Linked DNA regions of Homo sapiens: region 2 is linked to region 1. The links come from fine-mapping of genetic effects on gene expression. A gene starts in region 1. The other region holds a variant in brackets. All regions are shown on one strand. Distances are from middle to middle.

What was found. PIP is the estimated chance that this variant, and not a neighbour inherited with it, causes the effect.
Region 2: its variant is fine-mapped to the expression of TRIM5 in whole blood (TOPMed, PIP above 0.99).

The regions. Positions count from the first base shown.
Region 1 is chr11:5,681,264-5,690,290 of GRCh38, reverse strand. It overlaps TRIM5 (tripartite motif containing 5), which reads left to right and starts at 5,217. Exons shown (of 8, transcript NM_033034.3): 1 at 5,217-5,423. It overlaps TRIM22 (tripartite motif containing 22), which reads right to left and starts at 501. Exons shown (of 8, transcript NM_006074.5): 1 at 392-501. LOC124902620 (a long non-coding RNA gene) reads left to right here. Exons shown (of 2, transcript XR_007062561.1): 2 at 1-64. RefSeq lists enhancers at 1-396, 368-707, 1-821, 5,210-5,459.
Region 2 is chr11:5,657,319-5,666,345 of GRCh38, reverse strand. TRIM5 (tripartite motif containing 5) reads left to right here. Exons shown (of 8, transcript NM_033034.3): 6 at 265-365; 7 at 664-690; 8 at 951-3,151. The coding sequence ends at 1,537. LOC107984302 (a long non-coding RNA gene) reads left to right here and starts at 5,514. Exons shown (of 2, transcript XR_001748100.1): 1 at 5,514-7,136. The variant A/G (reference allele first, on the strand shown) is at 3,831.

The sequences.
Region 1 (9,027 bases):
CTCATGGCGACTGGCAAAGAAGAAGCACCCCTCTGCACAGAAATAAAATTGCTTTGCTGAGAAATCCTTTGTTTGAGTGCTCGTCTCCCTTAAGATTCTGAGCTTTATTTCCAACAAGGAAGGTGATGGAGGTACCTAGATTGAAGAAATGAATGGTCCCTCTAGGAAACAAGCAAGGCTTTTTGCTTTTGCAAACCTCTCTTCTTTAAAGGTTACCCCTCTCCCAGACTCAGTGCTTTCTTCCTCTGCCATCTCAGCAGACAGTTCACAAGCTGCCTCTTTTTGTTTATGCAGAGCAGCTTCAGAACTACAAATTAAACTCACCCAGACACAATCAATCTATTCTTCTCAAAGCCTCCCATTCTATGCTCCCACAGATTGCTCCACTCACCTTCAGTCCAAAGCAGAGGAGTCTTGAATCAGGGGAGAAGAGTGAAGGCAGGGCAGGAGCCGGTGTAAACCAGATTCACTCACCAAGCCAGAGGGCTGGTCTCCACAAATGAGTTTCCCCACAGGAGCTGAGTGAGAAACGAAAGTTAAATTCTCAGAAGTGAAAGAAAACAAAGGAAGCTGAACAAGAACTTACATAACAATAAACCCTGGGGAAAGTAATGCTACATTATGTTCTAGCATCTGCTGTACTGGCAAGGCACTCAGTCACTACTTCCTTATTCTTACTGTGGTTTACTCAAGCAAGAATATTTGAATAAAAAGAATGTGAATTACAGTTATACAGCTTGCCTGAATACTTAGAATTCCAATGCAGTCCTATAATTATTAGTCGAATTTATCTTATATTTAAGACCTAAGCCAGGAAAATAAAGATCCAGAGACTTGGGACCTAGCTTCTTGAAATGCAGTCTGACGAGGAAGATACTCAGTTATAAAGCTCTACAAATTTGGGCTGACAAGATGAGTATTAGCAGCTGACATTGTGAATGGTAAAAAAATTATTTTTATAAATAAAAGGATCTTTAGTGTGAGCCCATTGAAAAAAATGTTCTCAAAATGTCATTAAATCTTAAGAGTCCATCAATTAATTATCACTTCCTGCTCCTAATCCAGACAGACCAGATGAGGATGGATTCCAGAGAGTAATAGAGGTAAAACTGTGTCAGTGTCATGTTACCCAGCCACTGAGGCAGGTGAGAACATGGAAGTTAACAGATGATGCTGTTTAATTATAATCATTCATTGAGTTACTCTCATGCCTTCATAATTTTTCCACTTTTCCCTGCTTCTCTAAGAAAAGTTTGGTCATTTTTACACAATCAATTAAAAAGCAGCACTGAAACATGTTATACGTCATGCACATACTTCTGTACCCTGTTGTCTATTGTATTCTTGTTTAACTGCATGTGCCAGATAATGCCATCAAAAACTGATGGAGGCCTGTGGTGTCTCATGCCTGTAATCCCAGCACTCTGGGAGGCCCAGGTGGGTGGATCACTTGAGTCCAGGACTTCAACACCAGCCTGGGCAACATGGTGAAATCCCATCTCTAAGAAAAATTAAAAAAAAAAAAATAGCTGGGTGTGGTGATGTGCACCTGTAGTCCCAGCTACTCAGGAAACTGAGATGGGAGGATGGCTTGAGCCCAGGAGGTGGAGGTTGCATTGAGCCAAGATTGCGTCATTGCACCATAGCACTGCAGCCTGGGTGACATAGTAAGACCCTGTCTCTACAAAAAACAAACAAACAAACACCACACAACACATACACACACACACCCAAAAAAAAAGAAAAAAAAAGGCAACTCATGGAGCTTCCATAACATGGATCCCTGACTGACACTATGGAGCATGGCCATCTTCATACTTTAATCAATGATACACATGTAGGATGACTGAGAAATCAATGTTTATTATTTCAATAATAGATATTTTGGTATTATTTGTTGCTCACAGAATAATAAGCTAATCCTGGCTATAAATTCTTTCCTACTCACTTATATCTATGAGGACCTTATTCAATCAGCTGAAAGCCAGAATAGAAGAAAAAACTGACTTCTCCCCGAGAAGAGGGAATATTACCAGCAGGCAAACCTCAGGCGTGAGCTATAACGTTGACTCCTTCTTGGATCCAGAGCCTCTTGGCCTACCTTGCAGACTTTGGATTTGCCAGTCTCCAGAATCACCTGAGACATTTCTCAAGTTTCTTTCCAAATAAATTCATAGTTTAGTGGTTCTATTGCTATGATGAACCTTGACTAAGACAGGCGTGAAATTTTCTTATTTCTTCTTGAAGATAAATAAGCAAGAGATGTAATTTTAGGTATATTCCATGTTTGAATAGAATATCTTGTTGACATTTGTAGGGGAGTGAGCGCTCAGTGAGTGAATGTGTTTTTTCTGGAGTGCACAGAGTGGAGTCCGAGTGTCAACCACAATGGACAAAGTGAATGAACTCATTTATCCAGAGACCTGTTCTCTGTCCATTATTTCTTCCCTTCTCAGCACTTCCATAGATCTCATAGCCATCCTTTTATTCTCGTCTGGCTTTGAACATCTGAAGTGAACTTTCATCCTGGTCTGATTTATCTCATGAAGTATTAATTGCAGCTGAGAGAAAACAGTAGTAATATTAGGTCCTGACAAGATACCAGAAAACGTGGGCCAATAGAAAAACTGAATGCACCACACACAGTTTATCACCAGAGTAGAGCATGTTGGCAGGCTCCATATTCTAACCTATGTTCTAAATTGTAGAAAAAATATATTATTGTTGGAGCTCTGTGTTTTCTCTGTAAACCCTTTTTTTTTTTTTTTTTTTTGAGACGGAGTCTCGCTCTGTCGCCCAGGCCGGACTGCGGACTGCAGTGGTGCGATCTCGGCTCACTGCAAGCTCCGCTTCCCGGGTTCACGCCATTCTCCTGCCTCAGCCTCCCGAGTAGCTGGGACTACAGGCGCCCGCCACCGCGCCTGGCTAATTTTTTGTATTTTTAGTAGAGACGGGGTTTCACCTTGTTAGCCAGGATGGTCTCAATCTCCTGACCTCATGATCCACCCACCTTGGCCTCCCAAAGTGCTGGGATTACAGGCGTGAGCCACCGCGCCCAGCCTGTAAACCTTATATATCCTGCTTTCCTGCTTGAAAAGGAATCAAATGAAATATCTCTACCTTTGGGTCCATGGATATTTAACATTTTTCTCTTCAAGAAAAAGAGCAAAATAAGAGTAAATATGGTTAGAGTCTGAATAATACTTAGGAAGAAAACAGAGAGGATATTTTAAAAAATCGTTTAAAATTTGTTTAAAAATTTACATAATTACTTTTTTTTTTTTTTTTTTTTTTTTTTTTTTTTTTTTTTTTTGAGACAGAGTCTCACTCTATTGCCCAGGCTGGAGTGCAGTGGCATGATCTCGGCTCACTTCAACCTCCACCTCCCGGGTTCACGCAATTCTCCTTCCTCACCCTCCTGAGTAGCTGGGATTACAGGCATCTGCCATTACACCTGGCTAATTTTTGTATTTTTCGTAGAGATGAGGTTTCACCATGTTGGTCAGGCTGGTCTCAAATTCCTGACCTCAAGTGATCCACCCGCCTTGGTCTCCCGAAGTGCGAGGATTACAGGTGTGAGCCACTGCAAATGTAATCATTACATAATTATTACTAATGCCACATAATTATTACTAAATAACAATTAGTAATATTAATTATAATTGTAACTATTAATAATTGTAATTATTAATAATACTAATTATTATAATTATTACTATAATTATTACTGCCACATAATTATTACTAATGCCAGAAGAATATTTGAATTAAACTAGGTGACACAGCAGTTATCTTTACAGCAAGAATAGAACAGAAATGTGACATCAAGATATTCAATTAAAATTAGATTAATAGCTATATATCTTCATATCTATTTAAATATTACTCCTTATATACACCATATTCTAGTAAATCTGAGACAATAAAGAACAAAATGCAAAAGCCCCCTACCTGATTTCATGAAACAGAAAGCTGCGGGGGTACAGTGTGGAGGGGGTATGAGGTTACTGATGATGGAATTAAGTGATAACAGGCTGCCCACTGCAGTGCTCCCCATTGCCTTCTCCTGAGGCATTTTCATTTTCAAACTAAATACTCCTCTCTACCAATGATCCTAGTTCCAGTGTGGACTTCCTGAGATGTTCCAGTAAGGGAAAGCTTAGAAGGGAGGCTATGGTACATGGACCACAGTTCAGCCTTTTGGACCAGTTTTGCATAGTAACCAGAAGAGAAGAGAGAGGAAGGCCTGGCCCTGCTCAGGGATGCAATAGATACTTTGGAAAAGACAACAGCGGGAAGTTGGAGAGTTCTTTGAAAGTGAATAGTTGAAAGAAATAATGTGGTATTTCTTTATCGCTCTCCAGATAAACTTCTTTTTTTTTTTTTTTTTTTTTTTTTTTTTGAGACGGAGTCTCACTCTGTCGCCCAGGCTGGAGTGCAGTGGCGCGATCTCTGCTCACTGCAAGCTCCGCCTCCCGGGTTCACGCCATTTTGCTGCCTCAGCCTCCGGAATAGCTGGGACCACAGGCACCCGCCACCATGCCCGGCTAATTTTTTATTTTATTTTATTTTATTTTATTTTATTAGAGATGGGTTTTCACCGTGTTAGCCAGGATGGTCTCGATCTCCTGACGTTGTGATCCGCCCGCCTCAGCCTCCCAAAGTGCTGGCATTACAGGCGTGAGCCACCGCGCCCGGCCCTCTCCAGATAAATTTCTAGCATCCTGTCCTCTCTGGGTTTCGGAGTCTTAATAATATGACATCTCTCCTACCTGCAGCTCCTTTTCTGTTCATAGGTCCTATAAGATTTTTAAGTCCAGACCAGAAATCTACTGCAATTCTCTAAAAATCATTAACTTTGTTCTTCCTTCTCTTTGGGCCATATCTGTCACCCAGAAGCAGAACTCAGCTGTGAGATCAGGAGCAAGAGGAGCACATTGGAAGAATTTCGAAAAAGGGCACCTTTTCTAATTTTTAATACTTGGCTGGGTTAATCTGAAACTATGTCAGAAGAAGTGGCATGATAACAAGATCCTGAGACTCAAGAGAAAAGGGAGATTGAGTGGGAATGCCTCTAGTTCCCACGGCTCCTCCTGTGAACAGCACAGCTACACGGCCCGGCTGATTCATTCAGAGGGCGGGACTCACCAGGCCCTACGTGGAGAAATGCCATTGGCCCATAGTTTATCTTTCACTTTCCTGCCCTGAGTGTGAGCAAGAATTTCCTGCGGTTCCTCTAGGAAAATTCCTTTGTGCAGATCAGGCCCGTGGATTGGTGAGTGAATCCTAACCACGTCTTCCCTGGCCTGTCTTCACTCTTCTCCCCAGAATCACCACTTCTGCACTGGTGTCTGAAGGTGTATTGAGTGATTTTGTGGAGGGCAGAAGTAGGAAGTCTTTGGGACAAAACTGTATTTACCTTGGTGAGTTTAACTTATCTGAAAAGCTGTGCGGGGGTGGGGAAAAGACACAGTTCACAGACTTCTTGCTGCCAGAGCTGACTGAGGGGAACAGAGCCGCCTGGCGGGCAGGCAGATTTGAAAGAAGGGAGAGCTTTAAAGTGAAGGGCTTTGTTTCCCGAAGGCTGGTTATTTTTCCATGCTGACTCTCTCCCCATCCCCTCCCTACTCTATACTTTTTAATTGAACTTTGCTGTAGAGAGCCAGAATTCTCTCTTTCAGTGTCTTCTCCCAACAACAAGGGCAAAGACAGGGGCCTTGGAATCCTAATGATTTAATGCCTATTAGTTTACTAATGTAGTGTTTCTGCATAACTCTACAGGTCAGTTCTCATCACCTTGGCCTGGCTCTGTGACATCAGCCTTCATGGTGTGACAGCTGTCCAGTTCTGTAGTCCTGTCATTGTCACTGTAAATGGAGTTCTTTCCCTAGTTCATATTGGTTACAAAGATAATGGGAAAAAAGGCAAGCAGGTTTTATTTCTTGCTAGGAGTGGAGAGTAAGAGAGCTCCTTCTCTAAAGCCCCCTCCCCCAAAACAGTGGAAAGCATTGGCTTTAAAAGAACTGAGTACGGGGAGAGAAAGGAGTGTTAGCCTATAGGGTGGAACTCCAGTTGTGCCACCTCTGTTTATAAACACATGTCTTCATACTGTGTCCGGAATTGGTGGGTTCTTGGTCTCACTGACTTCAAGAATGAAGCCGCGGACGCTTGCAGTGAGTGTTACAGTTCTTAAAGGCGGCATGTCCGGAGTTTCTTCCTTCTGATGTTCGGATGTGTTCAGAGTTTCTTCTTTCTGGTGGGTTCGTGGTCTCGCTGGCTCAGGAGGGAAGCTGCAGACCTTCGCGGTGAGTGTTACAGCTCATAAAGGCAGTGTGGACCCAAAGAGTGAGCAGTATTAAGATTTATTGCAAAGAGGAAAATAACAAAGCGTCCATAGTGTGGAAGGGGACCAGCGCAGGTTGCCACTGCTGGCTCAGGCAGCCTGCTTTTATTCTCTTATCTGGCCCCACCCACATCCTCCTGATTGGTCCATTTTACAGAGAGCCGAGTGGTCTGTTTTGACAGGGCACTGATTGGTGCATTTACAATCCCTGAGCTAGACACAAAAGTTCTCCAGTCCCCACTAGATTAGCTAGATACAGAGTGTAGACACAAAGATTCTCCACATCCCCACCAGAGTAGCTAGATACAGAGTGTCGATTGGTGCATTCACAAACCCCGAGCTAGACACAGGGTGCTGATTGGTGTGTTTACAAACCTTGAGCTAGATACAGAGTGCCGATTGGTGTATTTACAATCCCTTCGCTAGACATAAAGTTTCTCCAAGTCCCCACCAGAGTAGCTAGATATAGAGTGTCGATTGGTGCATTCACAAACCCTGAGCTAGACACAGGGTGCTGATTGGTGCATTTACAATCCCTTAGCTAAACATAAAGGTTCTGCAAGTCCCCACCAGACTCAGGAACCCCACTGGCTTCACGCAGTGGATCCTGCACCGGGCCGCAGGTGGAGCTGCCTGCCAGTCCTGTGCCATGCCACGCACCTGCACTCCTCAGCCCTTGGGTGGTGATGGGACTGGGCGCCGTGGAGCAGGGGGCGGTGCTCGTCAGGGACGCTCGCGCAGCACAGGAGCCCAAGGGGTCGTGGGGAGGCTCAGGCATGGTGGGCTGCAGGTCCTGAGCTCTGCCCCGCGGGGAGGCAGCTAAGGCCCGGCGAGAAATTGAGCACAGCAGCTGCTGGCCCAGGTGCTAAGCCGCTCACTGCCCGGGGCAGCGGGGCCGGCCGGCCACTCCGAGTGCGGGGCCCACCAAGCCCACGCCCACCCGGAACTCCAGCTGGCCCACAAGCGCGGCGCGCAGCCCCGGTTCCCGCTCGCCCCTCTCCCTCCACACCTCCCTGCAAGCTGAGGGAGCCAGCTCCGGCCTTGGCCAGCCCAGAAAGGGGCTCCCACAGTGCAGCGGTGGGCTGAAGAGCTCCTCAAGTGCCGCCAAAGTGGGAGCCCAGGCAGAGGAGGCGCCAAGAGCGAGTGAGGGCTGCAAGGACTGCCAGCATGCTGTCACCTCTCAATACAACCCAGGCACACAAAATGGTGGAGATTTTCTTGTTTGGTGTCGTGTGGGGGAGGGGGTAACTTAACACTCTAGTGATATGTTAATGATCTAAAGGCAATTAGGGATTGTCAGTTCCAGTATATACGCTGGTTCGGGGGTCTAATTTCCCCCTTGGATCTGGTCAGGGGTCAAGATCTGGACCATGCTGGGCAGTCTGGCTTCTTCTTAAGCAACTTTGTCTATACATAAAGGGAATAAAGAAAAACGTTAAGAAAAATAACTTTCCCAGTCATTTCATCAGGGCTTCCCTGGTGACAGCATCTGTTTGCCTCTACTAGGGCACCAAGTCCAGACTCAGGGAACTACTGGATTTTCTTAAAAATCATTAACCTTGCTCCTCCCTCTCCGTGGGCCGTATCTGCCCCCCAAAAGCAGAGCTTAGGTGAGATACGAAGAGCAGGAGAAGCATGTGGAAAGAATACCCAAGTAGCTGGGATTACAGGCACCTGTCACCAAGCTCAGCTCATTTTGTATTTTTAGTAGAGACAGAATTTCACCATGTTGGCCAGGCTGGTCTTGAACTCCCAGCCTCAGGTGATCCGCCTGCCTTGGCCTCCCAAAGTACTAGGATTACAAGCGTGAGCCACCACACCCGTCTGGTTAAGTTAAATATTAAAAGCTGAAGCCGGGCACGGTGGCTCACGCCTGTAATCCCAGCACTTTAGGAGGCCGAGGCAGGTGGATCACAAGGTCAGGAGTTGGAGACCAGACTGGCCAATATGGTGAAACCCCATCTGTACCAAAAATACAAAAATTAGCCGGGTGTGGTGGTGCGTGCCTGTGGTCCCAGCTGCTCGGGAGGCTGGGGCAGAGGAGTCACTGGAACCTGGGAGGCAGAGGTTGTGGTGAGCCGAGATTGTGCCATTGCACTCCAGCCTGGGCGACAGAGCAAGACTCCGTCTCAAAAAAGAAAAAAAAATATTAAAAGCTGATAGAGCCAGTGCCCTTATACAAAGGCTGGAATGTAACAGAAGCCCACTGAGAGTTTTGCCCAGGCCTTTCCTGGGCCTTGAAGCATGACAAGATAACGAAGGAATCGATTAGGACCTGTTTAGGATTAAACAAGTTTTATGGGGGTCTGAAGGAACTCCCAGGCCTCCACAAACAAGTTTATTGAGGGTCTGAAGGAACTCCGCAAACCTTAATGATTTAGCAGGAGAGACAAGATAAGGGTAATCACCCCAGCACCCGGACCCATCTAGATTAGGTAAATTTACTGAGGCACCAGAGGAAGGTCTTAAAACTCAGACCTTAGTTATAGATTTGAAGAAGTTAATCACTTATGTTTTTAGATGAATAATGCACACCTATACGTAGACGTATAGCTTAGAAGGTATATAAGCTCTGGAAAACTTTGTAATTTTGAGTTGGTCTGGAGATATTTTCTAGGCCTTCTCCCTGTACGCAGAAATAAAAATTCGCTTCTTTCCCAGTAAATCTGCATCTCGTTATTGGG
Region 2 (9,027 bases), 24 kb after region 1:
AGGTTAATTATTTCATTTTAGAAGGAAGAAACTGTGCTTCTGAGAGGTTAAGATCTTCCCACGTTCTCACAGAAAGTAAGTGGGAAGGCAAACATGAGAACATTTTGTTTGCCTCCAGGGTCAAGAGTTTGCACTCTCCCTTCTCAGGATCCCCAAGAAGAGAGTTCAAGTGCCTCAATGGGTTGAAATGATAGGAAGTCAGGGGTGTTCCACGGACACAAGGTCAAAGGTTTGGAAGTTTTTTTTTTTTTTTTTAATTCTTAGGACGGAGAACGTGACCTTGAAGAAGCCAGAAACTTTTCCAAAAAATCAAAGGAGAGTGTTTCGAGCTCCTGATCTGAAAGGAATGCTAGAAGTGTTTAGAGGTGAGGAGAGCTAGATCAACAACAGGGTTATGGAATTCAAGTGGTGTTAGGGTGCTAAATAGGGAAGAGGGTGCAGTTTCCAAATATGGATAGAGGGGATAGGGGAGGATAGATATTGTCTGCTGCTGATGGGATTATATTTAATGGGAAATGGCTAGGTGGCTGTTTCATCTCATCATTCAGCAATTTACTGCCCTACCATAGGGCATACCTACTCTTTCCCTAATCTGGAGAGAAAATGAATTTCAGTGCTGACTCCTTTGTTTGTATTCAATATTGTGCATTTTTATCATTTCAGAGCTGACAGATGTCCGACGCTACTGGGGTAAGGAGAAGTCACATTATCATAAGCCACCCTGCGGCTTATCATTATTATTATCTTTATCTTTTAGAATTTTATGTTCTCTATTAGGCTCATGTTTTAAGATTTATGATTCTCCTTCCAAGACACACATAACTTACCCCTCCTTATAACTTCTAAACAAGGTTCCTCCCAGTTTTCTCTCAAGTCTTTATCAAGATTTCTCTCATATCACAAATAAAGTTACATTATATCCCTTAGCTGACCTGTTAATTTTTCTACAGTTGATGTGACAGTGGCTCCAAACAACATTTCATGTGCTGTCATTTCTGAAGATAAGAGACAAGTGAGCTCTCCGAAACCACAGATAATATATGGGGCACGAGGGACAAGATACCAGACATTTGTGAATTTCAATTATTGTACTGGCATCCTGGGCTCTCAAAGTATCACATCAGGGAAACATTACTGGGAGGTAGACGTGTCCAAGAAAACTGCTTGGATCCTGGGGGTATGTGCTGGCTTCCAACCTGATGCAATGTGTAATATTGAAAAAAATGAAAATTATCAACCTAAATACGGCTACTGGGTTATAGGGTTAGAGGAAGGAGTTAAATGTAGTGCTTTCCAGGATAGTTCCTTCCATACTCCTTCTGTTCCTTTCATTGTGCCCCTCTCTGTGATTATTTGTCCTGATCGTGTTGGAGTTTTCCTAGACTATGAGGCTTGCACTGTCTCATTCTTCAATATCACAAACCATGGATTTCTCATCTATAAGTTTTCTCACTGTTCTTTTTCTCAGCCTGTATTTCCATATTTAAATCCTAGAAAATGTGGAGTCCCCATGACTCTGTGCTCACCAAGCTCTTGAACCTTCTTACACACTCAGCCCCTTCTGTACAGCACCTCTTGTCCAGGTGCATCTCATACACCTGAACTCATTTGCATCATTTTAACCATCTTTTCCTTGCTGTCTCCCTTCTTTCTATTTGAACGTCCTTCACTCATCAGTAAAATGTAATAATTGCCTTGTGCCATATTGTCCCCAATATTTTATTGACATTTGATAGCAATTTTTTTCATCATTTTCCGTACTCCTAAGGAAAACTGACCTATACCTCATAAAATGAGACCGCTATTTAGGTATTACTTCTGCCAGATATTTATCACCCAATTGCCTCTGACACTGACTAAGAAGATGAAGAAAAGCTTTTCAACAGCCTTTCTATATCATCGTGTGATAATTGTTCACCAATGAATGAGTCCTTAGCCCTGTGTCAGTTTACCCTCGATGCCCTTATTTGTGAGTTAAAGAGAAAATATCATAAATGGTATACTCTTAAGTATAGAGGTTTTGTATCTAGAGGATCTCAGTTCAACTCCTGTCTCTCCATATACCAGCAGTGTAACTGTGAATAACATACTTAAATGGCTGTGCTTATTTCCTTTTCTTTTCTTTTTTCTTTTTTTTTTTTTTTGAGATGAAGTTTTGCTCTTGTTCCCCAGGCTGGAGTGCAATGGCACGATCTCGGTTCACTGCAACCTCCACCTCTCAGATTCAAGCAATTCTCCTGCCTCAGCCTCCCAAGTAGCTGGGATTACAGGTGCCCACCACCACCCCTGGCTAAATTTGTATTTTCAGTAGAGACGGGGTTTCCCCATGTTGGTTAGGCTCGTCTAGAACCTCTGACCTCAGGTGATCCACCCGCCTCGGCCTCCCAAAGTGCTGGGATTACAGGCGTGAGCCACGGCGCCCAGCCTGTGCTTATTTTCTTAAAATAATTTTTGTATTAAAAACTTCACATTAAATAAGTGCTAATGTTTTATTGCATAGTAGGGTGACTAGAGTTAACAATAACCTATTGCATATATTTTGAAATAGCTAGAAGAGAGGATTTTGAAAGTTCTCAACACAAAGAAATGACACATATTTGAGGTGATGGATATGCTAATTACCCTGGTTCGGTTATTACGCAATGTATACATGTATCAAAACATCACACTGTACCACATAAATATGTATATTTATTATTTGTCAATTAAAAGCAAAATAAAACAAAAAACCTTCATCTAATACTTTGGATCATTGTGAAAAAATAAATTCCTGAAGTATAAAGCATCTATCTAAGTGTCTTGATCTAATAAGTACTTGTTCTACAAATTATTGAAAAACATAAACTCTGTTAATGTCTCATGGAACAGGTTGTGCCTTCAGGGAAACTAGGATTGGATTTACTAAATTCTCATTTTTTAGATCTCAGATACTACTGTCAAAATGACTTCAATTCTGCCTTCTATATATAATACACACATATATTTAGGATTTTATTGTAATTCTAGTGTTGCTACATATTAGTCTTTATCAAACAAACTGAATTATGTGGGAATCAGTTTATTAATTGTAAAAAATAATTATAATAAAATTAGCTGATGTAGTTTTTTAAAAGTTAAACGAGTTTTTTGAATAGCTTCACTCATTTCTAGCATGTAAGGGGTAATCCATTATGGTGTTGGGCTTTTTTGTTTGTTTGTTTGTTTGTTTGTTTGTTTGTTTTGAGACAGGGTTTGTCTCTGTCACCCAAGCTGGAGTGCAATGGCACGATCTCGGCTCACTGCAACCTCCATCTCCAGGGTTCATCCTTCCACCTCAGCCTCCTGAGTAGCTGGGACTACAGTCACGCACCACCACGCCCTGGTTATTTTTTGTATTTTTGGTAGAGACAGGGTTTCACTATGTTGCCCAGGCGGATCCCGAAGCCCTGGGCTCAGGCGATCTGCCCACTTTACCTCCCAAAGTGCTAGGATTATAGGTGTGAGCCACCATGCCCGGCCTCATTATGGTGTCTATTAATTTTTGGTTCCCTCTCACTGTGACTGAAAGCAATAATTTTTAACAATATGTAATAGTTCTTTTCAAAATTATCTTTCTCCCTTCGTTTGAAGAAATACAAGAACTAAGTTAAAAATCACAGATTTTTCTTGTAGAAAGTTTTAAAATAAGTGTTTATAAATGGGAAAAAAAATCTTTGTTCTTAATTTCATAGCTGCCTAGTCTTAAGTTGTTTTAAGTATTTCTGAGTACTCTAATTTCATTGTAAATTTTTCCTGTTTGCCAAGTAGTAAAAACGTATTTTGCACAGTGATGCAGATAAAGTCAGAAGTAC[A/G]TGTGGCATTTCTCAACAATGGTATCGATAAGTGAATTGTGAGCCCAGGTTAGCCTGACTCTTCATTAAAGTAACAAAGGCATGGTAATTTTCATAAATGACAAAAAAATACTTGTTCTCCTTGTTCAGTGAGGAGAATTATTTTTGCAACGGATGTTTATGAAGGGCATGGTAGGATCCCTATGTCTATTGGCATTTTTATTTCCAACTCTTTCCCAAGTTTTGAGCTGAAGTTTTTTGTTTTGTTTTAATGGTCTACCTCATCAAATAGTCTCTGCTCTTCACCCTGCTTCCCCACAGAAATTTTAAGGTCTCTATCTTTGTGGTAACTTTAGTCAGAGAAGGGATTCCAAGGTGAATATTTTCAGTAACTATGTGTGTGCACACACCTCTCTACCTCAGCACCATCCAGGGAAACCGAGGAGGTTGATGCTATAAATTTTCCCTTTTACCTCTGCTTTCCTGTCACCCAATGCTATGAAGATTGAGGCTTTCACTCACTGGGAACAGTCTGGACTAGCTTGAATTATTGGCAAGTGACTCTCCAGGGACATTAATGCCTTTTCATTTCCTGGAAAGCCAAGTCCCACAGCTCAGGATGAAGTACCCAGTTACACAACAATAAAGACCTGAATTTGTATATACAACAGAAAAGATCTGCACACTGAAGGATTTTTTCAAACAGATGCTCCTGGCCCTAGTAATGAACCTCTCAGCTGAAAAGAATATGAAGCTTATGAATTGCTCTGAGTTACACTCCGTCTTCTCAGTAAAAGGCTGAAGAAGGCAACCTGTGCTCCAAAAGGCTAATGGACGTCAACTGTGGATTTTCTCTCTGCCTGTGTATCAGTTCTAGGATGTTCCCTCCCCATCACTTCTGAACCTCTGAGTAACAATTATGTCGTCTTCTATTCTGAGACTTCAGATCTATGCTGGGCCATTAATTAGGCATATCTGGCTAGAATTTTGGTACAATCTGGGGAGAAGCACAGAGAAAAGAGGTTGTGAAAAAAAACAGGGATTGCTTGAAGACTGTTCTGCAGGACACTGAGTAAAGAATGGGAGCAGGCCTCAAGCAGAAACCAGTGGGAGGACAAAGAATACGAAGAAGCAGAATGAGAGTTCGTAGGGGCTAAAGAGAAGGTGCCCTGATGAAGAGCCAATTCTAAGATTCAAAGGGAGAGAAAAGTAAAAGAACGTTTATATGATGTGTTGGAGGGATGGGATGGAATAAGCATCGGGCAGAGGAGAGCTCTTTGGAAAAGAGATCTCTTTGGTTTTTTTCTTTGGACATTGCAACCAATACTCCTTCTTGATGCTATACTTGTCACAAGGTAACAATTATGTTCTGAGCTCCTTGATCCTATTCAGTATCAATAAGATACATAAGTTAAATCTCATAATATGCCTAAACATATATCTAATCTTTTTTTTTTTTTTTTTTTTTTTTTTTTTTTTTTTTTTTTTTTTTTTTGAGACGGAGTCTCTCTCTGTCGCCCAGGCTGGAGTGCAGTGGCGCGATTTCGGCTCACTGCAACCTCCACCTCCTGGGTTCACGCCATTCTCCTGCCTCAGTCTCCCGAGTAGCTGGCACTACAGGCACCTGCCACCATGCCCAGCTAATTTTTGGTATTTTTAGTAGAGTCAGGGTTTCACCGTGTTAGCCAGGATGGTCCCGATCTCCTGACCTCAAGATCCGCCCGCCTCGGCCTCCGAAAGTGCTGGGATTACAGGCGTGAGCCACTGCGCCCGGCCTATCTAAACTTAATAATATCTTTGTATTAACCACCATACTCCAACACCACCATTATTTTCTTTCTGAATTATGTGGCAGTGCAAAACATTACAACCACACTGAAAAAAAAATCCGGCAGTTTGGTAGAGAAAGAAAGCGTAAAATCAATCAATTTAACATATAGTTAAAGATTGTCTAGAGTGAGCAAAACTGAGGTTCTATTTCCATTAATGAAGGTATATATTCTAATAAAACTGCATGCCCTCACCCACAGATCCAACATTAGAAACCTTGGACAAAATGTAAAAATCAAACCTGAAGGCACTAGAAAGTGACAAGCAATCAGAATATTCAGGGTAATAGACACTTAGAAAAAGACAACAGTATTGGGGGAGTTTCCTGTTTCTGTGGCTTTTCACTTGAAGGCAGACCTCAGTTGTTACTGGGTAGAACACTAAAAACTCAGTTAACAATATATGTACTTGCTGCTTTGAAAAACAAGAATGAGCCGGACGCAGTGGCTTACGCTTGTAATCCCAGCACTTTGGGAGGCTGAGGTGGGCAGATCACAAGATCAGGATTTCGAGACCAGCTAGGCCAATATGGTGAAACCCCGTCTCTACTAAAAACACAAAAATTAGCCGGGCATGGTGGTGGGCGCCTGTAGTCCCAGCTACTCAGGAGGCTGAGGCAGGAGAATCGCTTGAACCCAGGAGGCAGAGGTTGCAGTGAGCCGAGATCTCGCCACTGCACGTCAGCCTGGGCGACAGAGCGAGACTCCGTTTCAAAAAAAAAAGAATGATTTGTGCCTGCCATAGCAACTAGAAAATGATGGTAGAGTACCCGTAAAGAAGAGATATAGAGGAATAAATACCAAATTGTATAAACTCTAGTCAAGTCTCTAAAGTACATGTTTGAGACAGATGTGAAGCAGCCCAAAATAGGCTAAAGATTTCAGCTGCTGTATGTAGCAGGGAAAAATTAAGAATTTAATTTCAATCAAATTAACTACCTGAAAAAAAAAAAAGGCTTCAGAGAATTATACAGAATCCAGAACAGGAGCTTACAAAACAATAAAACCTGGGGATGGTAATGTTTCAGTATGTTCTATGGTCTGTACCATCTAGGCACTCAGTCACTACAGTTTTATTCTTAGTGCAGTTTACTACAGCAAGAATATTTGAATTAAAAGAATATGAATTACAGTTATACATTCTACAGCTTTGAATATACAGTGCTTTACCTGAGTACTTAGAATTTCCATGCAATTCTATAATTATTAGTTGAAGTTATCTTATACCTAAGCTCTAAGCATGTAGAATAATGACCCAGAACAACTTGACACCTAGCATCTTGAAATGCAATCTGATGGGGAAGACACTGAGTTATAAAGCTCTGCAAATTTGGGCTGACAAAATGAGTTATTAGTGAAATGAGAAAAGTTCCCTTGTTCCCTTTGCAGGGCATGCGACAGGGGGAATGGCTCGCTTCAGTGCCCTGCTGCTCAAAGCTCTAGGGGAGAATGCAGACGGGCAGGCTGTGGGGCTCTAACCCCACAGCAACCTCTAGGGGTGAGTGTTTACAGCTCCTGTGGGCCCCGCGGACATGTGTTACACTGTACTCTTTTTTTTTATACTTTAAGTTCTAGGGTACATGTGCACAATGTGCAGGTTTGTTACATATGTATACATGTGCCGTGTTGGTTTGGTGCACCCATTAACTCGTCATTTACATTAGGTATTTCTCCTAATACTATCCCTCCCCCAGGCGCCCACCCTACCACAGGCCTCAGTGTGTGATGTTCCCCGCCCTGTGTCCAAGTGTTCTCATTGTTCAATTCCCACCTACAAGTGAGAACATGCGGTGTTTGGTTTTCTGTCCTTGTGATAGTTTGCTGAGAATGATGGTTTCCAGCTTCATCCATGTCCCTGCAAAGGACATGAACTCATCCTTTTTTGTAGCTGCATAGTATTCCATGGTGTATAGTGCCACATTTGACCCAGCGATCCCATTACTGGGTATGTGCCCAAAGGATTATAAATCATGCTGCTATAAAGACACATGCACACACTGTACTCTTTCTAACAAAACTTCATGTCCTCACCCATAGATCAACATTAGAAACCTTGCACAAAATGTGAAAATCAAGTAAACCTGAAGGCACTAGAAAGTGACAAAAGCAGTCAGAATATTCAGGGTAATAGACACTTAGAAAAATATAACAGTATTGGAGGAGTTTCCTCTTTGCTGCCTGCAGGTGGCTTGTGTTTATCTGCTCTGACCCTCTGCCTTATTGCAAGGACAGAGGGCTTTCTGTATCCCAGGTTCTTGCCTTAACGTATCAGAAAAATTGGATCACACGTGGGCTTGGAGAACGAGTGCAAGGTTTTTTATCGAGTGGTAGTAGCTCTCAGCGAGGTGGATGAAGAGGCCAGAAGGAAGATGGAGTAGGAAGGTGGATTTCCCTGGAGTTGGGCCACCCAGCAGCCAGGCTGTCCTCTGACATCCCCGACCAATCTCTGCATCGGTCCATTGGTCGCTGGCCTTCCAGCATGTGCTGGTGCCTGTTGGTGTGTTCTTCTACCAATTTGCTACTCTTAACATTCAGTTGCTTGTGTCTCTTCCTGCTATAGGCACAGGATGGGGGCATAGCAGGCCAGGGTGATCTTGGAAAATGCAACATTTGGGCACAAAAACGGAAATTCCTGTCCTCACCTAAGTCTGTGGGCCCAGGCCCCAGGAGTGGAGGCTTTGTCAGGGACCGTGCCTTTCTCTTTTCAGCACTTCCCTGCACCCCTCTCATATAATTAGCAGCTGTCATTCTGAATGGGAAAAATAAACTTATTTTTCTAAATAAAAGGATTTTGCCAGACATGGTGGCTCAGGCCTGTAATCCCAGCACTTTGGGAGGCCGAGGCTCTCAGATCACTTGAGGTCAGGAGTTAGAGACCAGCCTGGCCAACATGGTGAAACTCTGTCTCTACTAAAACTACAAAAATTTGCCGGGCATGGTGGTGCAGGCCTGTAGTCCCAGCTATTCCAGAATATAATACAATATAATATATATATATATTTATATATATTATATTATAAATATATATATATTATATTATAAATATATATTATATATAATATATAAATAATATATATAATGCATTATATATAATATATAAATATATATTATATATAATGCATTATATATAATATATAAATAATATATATAAATGCATTATATATAATATATAAATAATATATATAATGCATTATATATAATATATAAATATATATATAAATGCATTATATATAAATATTTTATATATATATACACTTTAAGTTCTGGGATACATGTGCAGAACGTGCAGGTTTGTTACACAGGTATACACGTACCATGGTGGTTTGCTGCACCCATTAACCTGTCATCTAAATTAGGTATTTATCCTAATGCGATCCCTTCCCTAGTCC